Homo sapiens: one gene and its partner. The gene in region 1 interacts genetically with each later gene. Each region holds a gene or a part of one and is shown on either strand. Other genes may lie near its edges.

Region 1 (3,828 bases):
TTGCCCAGGCTGGTTTCGAACTTTTTGGCTCAAGCGATCTGCCTGCCTCAGCCTCCCAAAGTGCTGGGACTACAGGTGTAAGCCCCAACATGTCTTTTAATAGGTCTCTCCTATATCAGCCTTTAACCTTTTTTAGCCATTCTGCATACCATTGATTTGAACATTATTTTCTTTCCTCCCTTTTTCAATGCCCCATCCTTAGCATATCTGTAGAATACACTCCTCACTCCCATCCTGAAACACACACACACATGCACAAACACCCTGTTACTTGCTTCTTAGTTAGTTTCAGCTCTCTTGATCTAATCCTTGTCGTTCCTACACATCATGATCCTTCCATGCATGATACCTGTTTTATTTCCCACTGTCACTGCCTTTCTTTTTAAATCCATCTTTGAAAAGCTAGTTCAGTTGTCACTTTCTTTGTGAGGTCTTCCATTACTATTCGAAAATATAATGATCTTGTTTTTTCAACAAAATTATACAGCCTTGTAATATCCCTAGTATGTAAAGCAGATGGTGTAATGGAGACAGATGGGGTTCTAGCTTTAAGACCAGCCTAGAGCGTGTGATAGTGGTTAAAGTGAGATGATGAGGGCCTCAACTAGCACTTGATATTAGGGGTGATTATATAAATGTAAGAAATGTTTAAGAGGTAAAATCGACATGATATATTGATTAGATGTGTCTGTGGAGAGGAAGTCGAAGTCAAGGGAAATAATGACTGGCTAAATGTTGTAATACCAGTGGACATAAAGAAGCAGGTTCATAGTGACTGGCTTTGGGAGCCAAAGAGATTTTTTAAGTAGAGATGGCTGCTGGGTGCAGTGGCTCATGCCTATAATCCCAGCACTTTGGGAAGCCGAGGTGGGCAGATCACCTGAAGTCAGGGGTTCAGGACCAGCCTGGCCAACATAGTGAAACCCTATCTCTACTAAAAGTACAAAAATGAGCCAGGTGTGGTGATGTGCACCTGTAATCCCAGCTACTTGGGAGGTGGAGACGAGAATCACTTGAACCCCAGAGGCAGAGATTGCAATGAGTCAAGATGGCGCCACTGCACTCCCGCCTGGGTGATGGAGGGAGACTCCATCTCAAAAAAAAAAAAAAAGTAGGGTTGGCTAGCAGGCAATTGGATTATAACAAGGTGAAATTCAAGGACAAGGCAAAGAATAGCCATATCTTATCAGTCTTAAGATTCATTAATTTAAGTGGTAGTTATGTGTCTAAAAAGATGTGTTATTGTTTTTTTACAGTCCTTCATTACAGTTTGAAGCTGCTTGGGCATTAACTAACATAGCATCAGGAACTTCTGCACAGACTCAAGCTGTTGTGCAGTCTAGTAAGTAAATTCCTTACTGTCTGAACTTTTTGTGTTTTAATGATGGCAAGGAAGTAGAGTTTTGTAATAAAGAAATTTTATCTTGTAACATTTTTTAAATGATGACTTTTATAAGTTACTTTTGATGACCGATATCTTTTTCATAGCCGTCATTAATTTATCATGAAAAATTTTTAATTGTGGTTATTAAAAGAAGAGTAGAGTTTTATCTTTTGGAGTAGACATCATGCTGTGATAACAGGATTTTAAATTCCGTTTCTGATATCTTCAAGATGCTGAATGGCTTCTGCCTTTTAGCTTATGACATATTTTAAATTTTACTTTCCTCAAGATGGGCTAATAATTATTGTTAAATGACACTGACACAAGCTCTTTAGAAAAGTACTAGATATCACCACGTACGTTATTATAGTATGGGACACTTAGCTAATTTTAGGTGTGGTAATCAAGGTGATTTTAAGTAGCATGTGATATGGCAGTAAGTTACATTGAATCATGTATTGAGAATACTATTCTCACCAGACCCACAGGTGGCTCATGCCTCTAATCCCAGCACTTTGGGAGGCTAAGGCAAGCAGATCACTTGAGTTCAGGAGTTCAAGAACAGCCTAGGTGACATGACAAAATCGTGTCTCTACAAAATATTTAAAAATTAGCATTGCATGGTGGCGCATGCCTATAGTCGCACCTACTCAGGAGACAGAGGCGAGAGGATCGCTTGAGCCAGGGAGGCAGAGGTTGCAGTGAGCCGAGACTGCACACTGCATTCCAGCCCCGGCGACAGAGTGAGACCCTATCTCAAAAACAAAGGCTGGGTGCAGTGGCTCAAGCCTGTAATCCCAGCACTTTGGGAGGCCGAGGCGGGTGGATCACGAGGTCAGGAGATCAAGACCATCCTTGCTAACATGGTGAAACCCTGTCTCTACTAAAAATACAAAAACAAAATTAGCCGGGCATGGTGGCGGGCGCCTGTAGTCCCAGCTGCTTGGGAGGCTGAGGCGGGAGAATGGCGTGAACCCGGGAGGCGGAGCTTGCAGTGAGCCGAGATCGTGCCGCTGCACTCCAGCCTGGGTGACAAAGCGAGACTCCACCTCAAAAAAAAAAAAAAAGTTATCATGTGACCCAGCAGTTCTACTCCTAGGTGAAACCAAGAGATATGAAAACATATTCATACAAACACTTGTACATAAATATTCACAGCAATGTTATTCATAACTAACCCAAATGTTCATTAACCGAGGAGTGGATAAAGTGAATGTGGTGTATACAATGGAATACAATTCAGCAGTAAAAAAGAATGAAGTACCAATACCTGTTACCACATGGATGAACCTGAAGAATGTTAAGTGAAGTCAGACCCCCCAAAAAACACAGTATGATTTCATTTGTATGAAATGTCCAGAATAGGCAAATCTGTAAAGACAGAAAGCAGATATTTAATGGTTGCCTGCCGCTTGGGGAATGTGTGGCAGAGGAACAAATGTGGAATGACTGCCTTAAGTATGAGATTTCTTTTTTCTTTTTTCTTTTCTTTTTTTTTTTTTTTTAAGACGGAGTCTCGCTCTGTCGCCAGGCTGGAGTGCAGTGGCGTGATCTCAGCTCACTGCAACTTCCGTCTCCTGGGTTCAAGCAATTCTCCTGCCTCACCCTCCCAAGTAGCTGGGACTACAGGCACACACCACCATGTCCAGCTAATTTTTGTATTTTTAGTAGAGACGGGGTTTCACTATGTTGGCCAGGATGGTCTCAACCTCTTGACCTCGTGATCTGCCCGCCTCGCTTCCCAAAGTGCTGAGATTATAGGTGTGAGCCACTGTGCCCGGCTGAGTATGATATTTTTTTTTTTTGAGACAGAGTCTTGCTCTGTCACCCAGGCTGGAGTGCAGTGGCACGATCTTGGCTCACTGCAACCTCCGTCTCCCTGGTTCAAGCAGTTCTCTGCCTCAGCCTCCAAAGTAGCTGGGATTACAGGCGCCCACCACCACGCCCGGCTAATTTTTATATTTTTAGTAGAGACAGGGTTTCACCATCTTGGCCAGGCTGGTCTTGAACTCCTGACCTGGTGATCCATCTGCCTCGGCCTCCCAGAGTGTTAGGATTACAGGCATGAGCCATCATACCCAGCCAAGATTTCTTTTGAGGTCCTGGAAATGTTATAAAATTAGATTGTGGCGATGTCCTCACAACTCTGTATAAATATGAAATGTCATTGAATTACACACTTAAATGTAAATTTATTGTAATTATATCTCCGTAAAGTTGTTAAAACTGAATTAATTTAAATTTTAAGTAAATAATACAAGTAATACACAGATACAGCAAAAAAAAAAAAATGAGGTAGTGCACAGTTGATTGAAATTTTTAAAAAGTGATCTAGCTTATGCTGGAAATGGGTATAATGTATACATTCTGTAAAGAGTAAGGATTATGAGAAATTATTTTAAAGTATAAGATAGACCTGATATGAGATTAATCAGTTCTTTGGT
Region 2 (2,501 bases), on another chromosome or scaffold:
TAAAAATCCATGAATAGCTAAAGAAAGAAAATCTAAAACCTTCCTCTCAAATCTCTAACAAGGGCCATGCGGCCCCAGTGTTTACACTGAGTTATCAGAGCACTCTCAACTTCCTGTATGCTGAGAAGGGACTTCTGAGGAGGACAGTGGGCTCTGGGCTTCCAAGGCCTGGAGCTGTTATCCTCACTAAACAGCTGTGGTCTTTCTTGTCCCTGCTCTAAAGACATTCTCTTTTGGAGGGGACATTCCTGCCAGGACTCCCATCCAGCTCTCAGCAGGAAGAAGTTTCCCATCCTGAAAAACTCAACAGAAACTAAAAAACTGACCCTCTGCTACGGGGTTCCCGAGCATTTGTAGCCTTTCAGAGTTTGACCTTGATTCAGCGGATAAGACAGGGCTGGCCAAGGCCAGCTTTTTACTGCCTACCCATCATCTTTATGCAAGTTCAGGAGACAAAGGGCTTTAGGTGTTACAGGGCCATGGAGGGGCTTGCCCCACACTGAGCCCCTGCTGAAAGCAGAACAAGAAATGAGGTGGCTGGGCATGGATTGAAATGACAAACTGTAACTCTTCTACAAATGTAGAGGTTTATTTCAACAAAATGTGTAAAGAGTGCATCTGAAGCTCCTGCTCATCACAGTATGTGTCCATCAAATTCTGAGACAAGTGAAGGCTGTTTTGTGAACGAAGAGAACAGATAATATGGCGGTCTCCGTCCAAGCAGGTCTTGGTCAATATCCATCATTTATACTCCTCCTGCCTTAGTAGCCTTGCATGTTTGAGGGGCTGTGGGAATGTCAGATTGCTCATGTTCTGTGCCTCCAACTTGAAAAAATCCTTGTCCAGGGTAAGACCTACAGTAAGGAGCTCTGGGGATGGGGGAGGAGGCATTACAGGGTTCTAGAGAGGAAACATACTCGTTTGTGTCATAATTTGGTGGGGAGAGGGGAGGTAAATGAGTGTAACCCACCCTGCCTCTGAAGACATGCCTGGACAGGCCTCCTGGGGGGTGCAGGACTTCATACCACTTGTAGATATGTGGGATTTGATTTATTGCAAAAAAGCATAGAAGAATAATCTGGTCAAAAATGAATCCAATTCTTACTAGGTAAGCAAATAGCCAGCAATGGTCAATGCATTTTCCTGGACTGAGAATTGTCCCCCACCACTTTATGCCCTTTTCTGAAGGTGCTGAACACCTGTACCTTCCACCAGGGCAGCCGGGCTGAGGCTCTGACTCCTGGGGGCTGTCCGCTCCATACCCAGCCATACAGTGCCCACCTGCAACCCAGAACCATTGAAAAGTCCAGCCAATCTATCCGCACAGATTCCTCCTGAAGAAGGGGAGGTGGAGCTCGTTCTTGTGTGCAAACTACAGGGTTAAGGCTCAGAACTGTGGCTTGTCCAAGAACGTTCATACCACTGCTTCTCAAATGTCTTAGTGATTTCCTCCTTGGTCATCAGTGACAAATGCAGTTAGCTGCACTAAAGGAACCGGATGCTACACCAGCCCTGATCACCTGCCACTCTTGCTTTAGGAACAGAGGAATCAGTAAGTTCTTTTCTTGAATAAACTAGTTGTTGAAAGTAAACTCTCTCCACCACCTGAGGAAGCCCCTGATGCCAGTCAGGAGGGGCCAGTAAGCCTGGAGGACAGCAGCACCATGACTGAGTTGTAAATAATCTTAAGGTCATGTGGATTCTGTGTTTCCTGGAAGCCTCCCTCATCAGGAAGGCCAGCTCCTGGTGCTGAGGGTGTAGCTGTCACCAGGGTCCTTTCAGAGCTGTGGGGAGACCTGCTGCCTGTCTACACTCTGGGGAAGAGAGTAGAACCGTTAGCTGCTAGGACAGTAATCCTGGAACTAGGGAAGAGTGAGTGTGGAGGCACCATTAACCTCTCAAAACCATCCAAGCTCCAGGCTTCATAGGAACAACTTTCCAAGTCCTCAAAACAAACAGACTATCTATCTATCTCACTGGCTCTCCACATGGCATAAATAACTAGTTTCCACCAGTGCAGAAAGGGCAGTTCTCTTCTGGCTCCTCCTCTGCCAACTCAGGCTTCACCACCTGTGGAACTGCTGGGGCCCCTCAAGCACTGGCCTTGCAGCTCCCAGCCACATGCGACAGCTAGTCCAGCAGTGACGTGCAGGCGAGAGGCAGGCCAACAACTACCTTTCCCTTTGTCCTCAGAGACTGAACCCAAGGTTGAGGTCCCCTAAATCAAGAATAACTGGTTCTATTTTCTTTCTCTGCTTCTTGGCTCACAGTTTTGCCCTCATCTTTGAGTTCCTATGGAGCTTGTAGTAGATTTTATGCTCTAATTTTTCTTCATAAAAGGTACCGTAGTGTGGTTAAACTGGGAATCATTCCTCTCCAGTGCCTACTGTGTGCTGGGCTAAGAGTCGGGGTAATAAACAATGGACTTGAGGCTTCCTCCTCTCCTTAGCCCTCCTCTGCTGCCTGTGGCTGCGGCTCATGGGGCCAGGAGTGAGGGGGGC

What was found.
Region 2: changes in KPNA3 (region 1) and ACACA together harm fitness more than expected from each alone (negative genetic interaction), as found in Homo sapiens cells (one large-scale study listed by BioGRID).

The regions. Positions count from the first base shown.
Region 1 is NC_000013.11:49,722,930-49,726,757, reverse strand, and holds part of KPNA3 (importin subunit alpha-4), read left to right. Parts: intron 1-1,256; coding exon 1,257-1,342; intron 1,343-3,828. UniProt on the Homo sapiens protein: Functions in nuclear protein import as an adapter protein for nuclear receptor KPNB1. Binds specifically and directly to substrates containing either a simple or bipartite NLS motif.
Region 2 is NC_000017.11:37,084,424-37,086,924, forward strand, and holds the end of ACACA (acetyl-CoA carboxylase 1), read right to left. Parts: 3' UTR 569-2,501; downstream 1-568. UniProt on the Homo sapiens protein: Cytosolic enzyme that catalyzes the carboxylation of acetyl-CoA to malonyl-CoA, the first and rate-limiting step of de novo fatty acid biosynthesis.